2 separate regions of the Homo sapiens genome follow, and region 1 is linked to region 2. Evidence: fine-mapped expression QTL. A gene starts in region 2. The other region holds a variant in brackets. All regions are shown on one strand. Distances are from middle to middle.

Region 1 (5,391 bases), 24 kb after region 2:
CTCAGTGAACTCCAATTAGGATAAATACAGAAGAAATCCACTCTCAGACGTTTCATAGGAAAAATGCTGGAAGCTAACTGCAAAGAGAAAATCTGGAAAGCAGCAAGAGATAATGACTCATCACATACAAAGAACATAAATAAGATTAACAGCTATCCAGAAATGCTTCTCACTCATCACATACAAAGAACATAAATAAGATTAACAGCTATCCAGAAATGCTTCTCATCAATATAATTTTGCAATTTAATATTTTCGCCTTAAGATGTATTCTGTTTTGAAAACTTCATAATAATCCTGGTATGGATACAGTTCTTAATCACCTATCTGAAAGCCTTGGAGGTAGACTTTTGGAATTCAGATTTTTTCTGATTTTTAAAATGATAACACAGAATATCCCCAATGAAGTCTATCTAGCACGGCATTCTATAATCAAATACATAAACATATTTGCAAACAAATATATGTAGATTTATACTAAATTTGACAAATATGTATAATTTTAATATTACAGTTTATATAGAAATAAACTGACAAGTGAAATAATTGGATAATTAAAGACCAAAAATATTCAGATCCTTCTTAGTTCTAAGAAAAATATTCAATATACTTTTAAACACATACAGATTTGAACTAAGTTAAAGACCTTGTATTAGTCCATTCTCACTGCTATACACATACTACCTGAGACTGGGTAATTTATAAAGGAAAGAGGTTTAATTGACTCACAGTTCCACATAGCTGGGGAGGCCTCAGGAAACATGCAGTTGTGGCAGAAAGCAAAGGGGAAGCAAGGACCTTCACATGGTGTCAGGAGAGAGAAGAGTGAGGAGTGAAAGGGGGAGAGCCCCTTATAAAACCATCACATCTCCTGATAACTCCCTCATTATCATGAGAACAGCATGGAAGAAACCACCCCATGATCCAGTCACCTCCCACCAAGTTCCTCTCTCAACATGTGAGGATTATGGAGGTTACAATTCGAGATGAGATTTGGGTGGGGACAGAGCCAAATCATATCAGACCTGTATATAAACACAATGACTTAAATCGTACCTTAGGTTGCTTAAGGACATTGGGCAAGAGGACACATCAGTTTTGCTATCTTTGTTGTCAGATGGGATTTGAGCAACTTATGATGGGATGGAAGCAGAATTACTGAGTAATGAGTTAATACTTTGATAGTTGGCCTTTTAAATGACTTTTTCAAGGATCATGTCAAATCAGCATGGGTCCAAGTATTAGCAACAGAGTAAATGGCGTCATTAAAACTGAACTCATTCAGATCTTGGATTCTTGGACCTCTGTTAACTACAGCTAGCCCACAGTTAAAGAAAACTTTATACTTTTATTAATAGAATATAAAATTTCATGGCCATATGTCTTTGTCACGGATGTTACATTGTGTGTGTGTATGTGGCGGGGGGTGGGGTAACAAATACTGAAAATGTTACTTTTTACAAGAGGACCAGGAGAGGATATAAAGGGCAGTTGTCTGAGAAGAATAAATTTTACAGTTTTTGTTCTAGTCCAGATTGCCTATAATGACCTCATGTCCCTGGTACAAAGTGGTCTTTCAACTAGTCTAGAAATACTCTGATTATCCCTACTTTATTGTCTGCTTAGTGATGGATAGACAAATTGCTGTATACTTCATACACTGTGTGCATTGGCTTTTTGTAATTACTGTCCAGTTTATCCTGTACCATTGCTACACACACAAAAAAGCCAACCAGTGCTTAGTGTCCTTAAAACCTGTAGCTTTTCTTCCTCAGTCATGGTTAATGTTCTTCTAAAACACAGCACCAGTACAGAACTGTTTCTTCAAGTTTAGGACTAAGGTTTAGTTGGCAAAAAGAGTGACAATCTGTAAAACAGGGATCCCCATAACCCTGGCCACAGACTAATGCCGTGGCCTGTTAGTAACCACAGCAAGAGGTGAGTGGTGAGTGAGCAAATGAAGTTTCATTTGTATTTATAGCCACTCCCCTTTGCTTACATTACCACTTGAGCTCTACCTCCTGTCAGATCAGCAGCAGCATTAGATTCTCATAGGAGTGCAAACTCTATTGTGAACTGTGCATGCAAGAGATCTTGGTTGTGAGCTCCTTATGAGAATCTAATGACTGATGATCTGTCACTGTCTCCCATCGCCACCAGATGGAACTGTCTGGTTGCAGGAAAACAAGCTTAGGTCTCCCACTGATTCTACATTATGGGGAGTTGTATAATTATTTCATTATTACTTACAATGTAACAATAATAGA[A/G]ATAAAGTGCATCGTAAATGGAATGCACTTGAATCATCTGAAAATAATTCTCCCACCCCATCTGTGGAAAAATTTTCTTCCACCAAACTGGTCTCTGGTGCCAAAAAGATCGGGGCCCCCTGCTGTAAAATATTTGAAGAAATGTATTCTGAGCCAAATACGAGTACCCATGGCCCATGACACAGTCCTCAGGAGACCCTAAGAATATGTGCCCAAGGTGGTCAGGGTACAGCTTGGTTTTATACATTTTAGGGAGACATGAGGCACCAATCAAATACAATTAAGATATACATTGGCTTGGTCTAGAAAGGTGGGACAACTCAAAGCTGGGAGTGGTGGGTTCCAGGACATAGGTAGATTTAAAAATTTTCTGATTGGCAATTGGTTGAAAGAGTTATTATCAGTAGAAAGGAATGTCTGGTTTATAATAAGAGGTTATAGCGACCAAAGTTTTATCATGTAGATGAATTCTCCAGGTAGCAGGCTTCAGAGAGAATAGATTGTAAATATTTCTTATCAGACTTAAGGTCTGTGTTGATGTTAAATGCTGGCCAGCTTTCCCTGCATTCCAAAAGGGAGGAGGTATAATGAGGCATGTCTGACCACCCCCTGCTTTCCATCATGGCCTGAACCAGTCTTTTAGGTTAACTCTGGAGTGCCCTGGCTGAGAGGAAGGAGTCCATTCAGATGGTTAGGGTCGAAGCGGGCTTAGAATTTTATTTTTGGTTTGCAGCTTTCATCAGGTATCACCTTAGAAAATGTATTAATGTAATTGTCAGCAGAATGTATTTTCATAAAGATATTCGGATATTTTATATCAAGAAGCTTCCTAACTTTCTACAGCCAGTCTTTTGAATATTTACAGTGACATTCAGTGTTCAGTTCTTCATGACCAATTCTGTCTTGTTTAGTGAGCCACAAATCAATCATTTCCTCTATTCAGTTTAGTATTATTTCTTATGTTCACTGGTCATTTACATTTAGTCTCTATACTTTTGCTTGCTTTTCTTAGTCCTTTTAATTACAAAATTTATATTTCTTCAGCCTATGGTTTTTTTTCATAATTTCTTTAATTACTGTTTCATCTCTATTGATTCCTTCGCTCCTTCATGAATGACCTAAATGACATTGATTTAGGCTGGTTAGATTACAAAACAATTAAAAGCCTTCATGTTCTTTTATGGTTTTGAAGAGAAAGAATTGTATTTTTAGCTACTTTCAAATTTTAGGTATATTGTTTATTGGATAAAGTTATTTATATTCTTTGAATGAAGGGGCAAAAATAGACAAGGAACCCTGTTAAGAGACAGATATGTGTAAAATATGTCTTATTCATATTTAAATTTATATTTGTCTATTCTCTAGCTCTTGTCATACTTTTACAGAATGTGATATTAATCAAACTTTTTTCTTGAGTAATTCTCCTAAAATCACCCCAGCATTATCATGGAATTTAGGATCTTCAGATGTGATAATGTTAGTTTATAGGTCAGTCCTTTTTCTCTAGATTTAATTTCCTAAGGAAAGGCACCATATTTTAATTGTATTTGTATCTCTCAAATACAGAAATCTCAAACATTATTATCACTTTTATGTTTTGTGAAAACTGAATCAAATTGAGTTTTCTAAATGACAGTCACTTAAAATGAATAATTTGAATTCTATTTGGTAGTGCTAAATATAAACTGGTCAAAAATAATTCTTTATTTCTAGTTTGTGTGTGTGTGTGTATTTCACATTGTGTATTGGACATTGTGTCAACTAAAAGGTTAAATAACAGACATTACACCTTAAAGAAATTTTAAGTTAATTTTATTCTAAGCCAATTTCAAGGATTAATAGCCTGGGAAACACAAACTTACCCCAAACTGAGAATATGTCCTCGAGTGGGCTATACAAGGCACAGTTCTATTACACAGAAAATAGGAGAAGGGGAGCAGTGAAACAAAGGTGACATTCTTTCTATTTTGATTGGTGTTCAGAGACTTTATACAAAAGATAAAGCAAATATGTAGTTACCACTGTATATAGGGTTAATGAGCATATAGGTGTCCTAGTCTCTGGAGGGAGATGATTGATTATATCCTGTTTTATCTGATGGACAAGGTTGTAATCAGTACGTGTCAATGAAATGTTTGACAGCCTCCAGCCCTGCAGCAGGGAGTTCCAACTTGCCAAATTATACTCTCAGTTAACAGACAAGATAAACTTCCTGTGGCTCAAAAGTAAAAGGAGACCCAAGAGTCCATGGCAGGGTGAGGGGTGTAGTCACACTCTCTGTCCTTAGAAAGTATTGCAAAATTTGTTTTTCTGCAACCAAGTCAAGGAATAGTTCCTGAAAAACAATTGCAGCTGGGAATTCTTCAACTGACCATTAAAGACCACCTGATGCCAACCCACCAACCACCTGGAACCAGCCAACTAAGAGAGGCTGGTGATTTGGGGTTTAAGTTTTCCCATCAAGACTGTTCCTCACTGCCCTGACTACAGTTCTTTGCACTGCAGTTTGCCTTTATAATTTCTAACTCTCTGCCACCCAGCTTGGGAGTGCACTTCTGTTTTACAGAAGGCTGCATCTCCCTAATCTGAAGATTGATTTTTTTTAAGAAGATAAAGCTGTCTTTTTTCTCCATAGATCTCGTGGTCTTTTGTTAACAAGCTTTAGTTTATAGGCCAAGTTTTTGTTATCTGTATGTCAAATCAGCAGACATCTTGGGTCACTTAAATTTTGTTTTTCAAATTTTGAAATGAATAGCTTTATTGCTTTAGCTCATAAACTTAAGTCTTATTTTTTTTTCTTATGGGTGCATAGTAGGTGTATATATTTATGGGACACATATTATATTTTGATACAGGCTTGCAATGCATAATAATCACAATATGCTAAATGGGGAATCTATCTCCTCAGCATTTATACTTTGAGTTATAAACAATCCAATTATACTCCTTTAGTTATTTTTAAATTTATAATTAAATTATTATTGACTATAGTAAGCCCATTGTACTATCAAATACTAGGTCTTACTCATTCTTTATATATAAATATTTTGCACTTATTAACCATCCTCACTTCTGTCCCACCACTTACCACCTTTCCCAGCCTGTACTAACAATCCTTGTACTA
Region 2 (5,391 bases):
AATATTGTAAATTAAAGAAAAACTCTAAATTCAATAAATAAAAGCTGTAAACGTCTTTAGATAAAACATTACCTTGCAAGTCCAATACCAAATCCAGCAAATCTATTCAGCTGTTCTAAAGTAAAAAAAAATAGAAATAAAAAAATAAGATTACTGATAACCAATTACTGACAATTTAGGTTTAGTCTCAAAACAATTTTAAAAAATTTATTTTATTAACCTGCTGTTCATTTAAACCTCAAAGTCAAATTCTGATAGGGGCCAGGTAAATAATTTAAATGAATGAAGGACTCTGCTGGGGTCTGTGGCAAATTGCAAGGTGTAGAGTGTTTAAAGCACAATTACGCTTTCACTCCAATTCATTGTTGCCACATTAGAGTGTGGGCCCAGGGTTTTGAAGTTGTAATTTTTTCAAAAAAAGATATTCTCATTTTATATAAAAGCTTCCAATTTTAAAGTCCTGGACAACTATTTCAAAAACTGTTAACACATTGTCTTGGCCTAATGAAACAAATATCCGGACAGAACCTAAGGGCTACCAGTTTTCAGCTTCTGATTCCAATCAAATAAAAAATTTTCCATGGTTGGCCGCAGCTGATATTCCACCTGCGACTTTACCTCTTATGCTGTAAAACTAGTTATTCACTGTTACTGACGGAGAGCACTTTATTAAACCAATAACTACAAGTAAAGCACCTCTAAATTATTAACTTGAAAGGGTACTTAGGGATAACCAAAATGGGTAAATACAGCTCTCCCCCATCTCTTCAAGTTTTAAATAGTTTGAGGCTAGCTGTTTAATTAATTGGAGTAGGTTACTGGATACCTAAATGCTACTACAGATGGTATGTCTGTTATGTTACTGGAAAAGTTCACAGCTGGGAACATTCCTATGCATATGTCAAAAGAGAAAAGCCTTTCTTCTTGACTAAACTCAAAGTCATAGTGGTGAACTATTACAACCCCAGGGGACCAGACATCAAATTCTAACTATAATACAATATTCACAAGTTACAATTCTTTCTCTCCTCTTCTCTTTCAAGTGAAGCAACTGCCCTCACTATTCCCTTTCAATCAGAACAAGGCCACCTAAGCATGTTCCTGGGAAATTACGCAGTTTACCCTAGAAAAATGTATAAGCTAAATAGAAAGCTTCTTTTACCCACCTACGGTACTTTTACCTTAGATTTTACCTTTTTTTGTTTGTTTTGAGACGGAGTCTCGCTCTGTCGCCCAGGCTGGAGTGCAGTGACGCGATCTCGGCTCACTGCAAGCTCCGCCTCCCGGGTTCACGCCATTCTCCTGCCTCAGCCTCCCGAGTAGCTGGGACTACAGGCATCCGCCACCACGCCCGGCTAATTTTTTCTATTTTTTAGTGGAGACGGGGTTTCATCGTGTTAGCCAGGATGGTCTCGATCTCCTGACCTCGTGATCCGCCCGCCTTGGCCTCCCAAAGTGCTAGGATTACAGGCGTGAGCCACCACGCCCGGCCTTACCCATTTTGTATGTATAGATCATCCCCAAATAGCAACAGAAAATGCTACTAGCATTTTCTGGAAGGTGTTAGGAAGGTTTAATCTTGTTTACTGTGTAAGTCTCTTAGGTGTCTATCTTTGTTGCAAAATTAACATTCACCCACCTGTTAAGGCTGCAAAATAAACCCCTGCTTGTGTCAAGGAACTCCTCCTCATTGTAACCACCAAAGCATAACTTTAAACCGGGAAGAGTCAAAAAGCTAATTGTATGACAATTAGCTAGGTAAGTCATCTATCTTTCTTCACATCCTCATTTACTCACTAGACATTCGTTAGTCTGTTCTTCTTAGTTAAATATTATTGTACTTCCAAGTCAAAGTCGAGGAAATAAGAATAAAGCTGATTTCTACAATAAATTTAATATTAATACCATTAATCTATTATTCTAACAATTCCAGAAGAATAGAAAGAGGTAGCCATTATTCACATTTTATGAATAAAAAAGGATGTTGAAAATATCTACATCATGCAGTGTTGCAGCTTTTCTGACATCCCATGGAGAATAATTATGTCATGATTCCGAAGTCCTATCTTGAAATTGTATCAGTGTTTCTAACTTTTATATGTAGTTTTTAGGTCAGCAGAAGGAAAGCAGAAAGGAAAATTATAGGAAGGAAACTTTCTAGACTGGGGATCTGAAAAGCAGACAAAACTCCTGTGTTCAAAAAGGAAAAGGAAGGAAACTTTTTTTTTTTAGCCTATGTGTCCCATACAGGATTCTTCTACACATCTTAAAGATGAGAAAACTGAGGGCTCACAGAGGTTAAGTTGTTCAGATTACGAGTGGCACAACCAAGTTTGAACCCAAGTATGCTTATGCTGAAAGGCTTCTCTTTTCAGAACACAAAACTACAAGTAAACACATTAATTAATTAATTAAATCAAGAAAATAGAGCTGCCAAAGTGAATCAGGGAACAGTTAATAATCCAATCTCCTTTTTAACTCAGACCATCAGTTGAGACACCAAAACCTCTAAAAATTCCTGCTATGCACCCCATAGCTAAGGCAGATGTCTTTTTTGGAGTTGATCCAGGAGAATTCGTTTGTGAGGAAGAGGAGGCCAGCCTCAGGGGCAGAGGACCAAAGGAGGGCAAAGGGTGTGGCGCGCGATAGGATGAGAAGGAATAGGAGGCGGGATCCTCTGCGCCGCTTCCGGGGTCTGCAGGCCGCAAGCCGCGGCCCCAGTAACCCCTCATCCCTGTGTCGGTCCCCATGCTTCTCACCACTGCTCTGCCCCTGCACACTGCCGCCGCCGCCACTGGAAAAGGGTTCCTCCGTGGGGCCTTCGTACGGGGTGGAGGTGGTGGGCACGCCGTAGGGCGGGCTCTTCTCGCCCCAGTGCAGGTTGCGGCTGCCGGGGATATCTGGGGGAGTCGTCACCCAGTGGCCCAGGTCCGACCCGGTGCTGAAGGACCTTGCAGGGAAGGCGCCGCCAAAGCCCTGCTCGTCCCGGGCACCACCCCGGTAGCCCAAGCCATCAAATCCGTCCGGGCGCCGCGGATGCATCGCAGCGGGGGCAGGATGACGCGAGCCCGCCCGGAGCCCACCACCACCGGGGCCACCACGACCTAAGCACACACAGCTTCCCGTCGGCCGCCGCCGCGTCAGGGGTAAATTCTGACAACCGGAAGTCACGTTGGAAACCCGGAAGTCTTCGGAGCACGTGATTATAGCCTCTTCCGGCAACCATTAAAGGGCACGGTTGCTAGGGAGACGCGGCGGTAACCTGGACCTTAAAAGTTTGTTGTCGTTAGGGAATAGGTGGGAATATGGTTGTGGGATTAATGAAACACAGTACCAAAGAGATTCCAGAAAGAGAACTGGTGTAGGAATAGGGCCTGCATGGGAGGAGTTCAAAGATGCTTCTTGGAGGGAGCCGATAACCCGCGGGTGGAGCCTACCCGGTGAGATCCCGGCCAGAAATACCCCATGTCACAGCTACGCCCCAGATCTCAGTGTTTTCTCACGGGCCTGGTGCCTCGCCTGCTCCGAGGAAGCTAGTAGAGGTTGGAGTTGTGGAGGGTTAATAACGTTCCACCTAGCTTTGTCTCCCGCACTTGGGGTTTTGGATCAAATCTATTGAGAGATATGGTACCGCCCAGTGAACGCGAAAGTACTGTGGACCACCAGAGCAAGCATTTTAAAAGTTGAAGTGCACGTCGGGGGTGAAAGAAACCCACGTACTCGAATACTGTCCTCCTGGAGTTAGAAATTACGCGTTTTCCTTTTCTAAGGCTGTAAAGAAACTATAGTTTTCTGTCGTATTTTTTTCTGATGTGTCTAAATCACTCAGGGTATTGAAATCCCAGTTATATCGTTCAAAATTGGGACCTCTAATTGAATAACTGAGAGGACTACTGTAGAGCGTCCCCTACTACCTGTTTTCATTAGCTCCACGGGCTCTTGGGCCAGGCTCCCTCCCCAGATCTGAGGAAGACTTCCATGGTTTCATCCTATGTTCCTTCAACTCGTTGGAAGCCCAGGATTCCTAGAGCTTTTCCAAGAGAACTCTGACGTGCAGTTCTCGATCTTCCAGATGCGAACCTTGATTGAGAGTGATAATCAACTTTGTTTTGATTGAACTGACATTTTTTTCTGTGGTTTTATCACTTTTTATTTTTTATGGGTGTATAGTAGGTGTATATATTTATGGGTTACATGAGATATTTTGATAGCGTACATTAAAATGTATAATTAACATTTTTAAATAACGAATTGACATTCTTAAATTTGATTGCGATGCAGCTTGGGCAAAGGTGTTGAGTCTCTTGACTGTATAAAATTTAAATGTCCATATAGTAAATTTTAAAATATATAGTAATCACAATTGAAAGGCAAATCACAAACAGAAAAATGACATTTTAACATGGTTTAAACAATGGAACAGTAGCTTTAATGTACAAAGAGTTCATACCAATGAATAAAGGCAAATCAGAAATATGAGCAAAGGACATGTAGAGGCAATTCATACAAAAAAAGGAAGTGTAAATAGATAATATCATATAAAAAGTCCTTTACTAATTGAAAAAAGGTAAATCTTAATTATCTTTCACGTATTAAGGTGTTTAAAAGGGAAAATGCACATTGTCTTTCCAGGTGAGAAGAAAGTAGCTTTCATTAATTTCTGAAGTGATATAAAACATAACTTTCTGATGGAGAGCAGTTTGGCACTATGTATCAAAAACTGTAAAAATAACCATATTTTTTGACTCCAAAATCTTAGAAAACAAATATAGGGGTTTTTTACATGTTTCTGGCATGGATAACATACATATGTTTATGGCATGCTTGCTCATAATAGGAAAAAAATAAGCAGGAATGCAAATATCAAATAATTATTATTGATTAATAATTTATTATTTAAAGTGTATATCCATACAGTTGTTTAACAAAAATATATTTATTAAGCACCTATCTCGTGTCAGATACTATTTTAAGCAATAAGGATAGAATGATAAATAAGCCAGACAAGGTGCTTGCATTGTTAGAACTGACATTCTAGTTTAGGGAGACAAAGAACAGATAAATATATCCTGTCAAATATAGTGCAATGTCAAATAATGACATGATTGTATTAAAAAAGCCTAAGTGAGCAATAAAGGAAGCTTTTTTTTTTTTTTTTTAGAATAAGGAAGTCCTCTCTGAAGAAGTGACCTTTGAGCAGAGAACTGAATGAAGTGAGGGAGTGAGCCATTTGTGAATATGTGGGAGAAGTTTTCCAGGCAGAGCTGAGCAAGAGAAACGCCCCGATAGCAAACTAGGTAGCCAGTGAGAAAGGGTGAAAGTGATAGGAAATGAGAGCTGAAAGGAGGCTAGGTGCCAGATCTTGCAAAGCCTTGTCGGTGGTGAACAAAA

Which allele goes with the higher level. Positions count from the first base shown, and alleles are read on the strand shown. Sizes are in standard deviations (SD) of each study's normalised expression.
In carriers of allele G in region 1, the expression in tibial artery of the gene that starts at base 3,155 in region 2 tends to be lower than with A alone (small effect, 0.20 SD a copy in GTEx).

What was found. PIP is the estimated chance that this variant, and not a neighbour inherited with it, causes the effect. A credible set is the group of variants that fine-mapping cannot tell apart.
Region 1: its variant is the best candidate, but not a certain one, in a credible set for the expression of SLC25A46 in tibial artery (GTEx, PIP 0.90).

What each region holds. Positions count from the first base shown.
Region 1 is chr5:110,713,220-110,718,610 of GRCh38, reverse strand. The region is part of intron 1 of TMEM232 (transmembrane protein 232); the gene reads left to right. Among named protein-coding and RNA genes, the nearest start is that of TMEM232, 11 kb to the left of the region's middle. The variant A/G (reference allele first, on the strand shown) is at 2,268.
Region 2 is chr5:110,736,771-110,742,161 of GRCh38, reverse strand. It overlaps SLC25A46 (solute carrier family 25 member 46), which reads right to left and starts at 3,155. Exons shown (of 8, transcript NM_138773.4): 1 at 2,760-3,155; 2 at 73-115. The coding sequence starts at 3,042. It also overlaps a transcript of TMEM232 not described here. RefSeq lists enhancers at 817-1,316, 1,317-1,818, 3,063-3,132, 3,143-3,272, 3,523-3,572.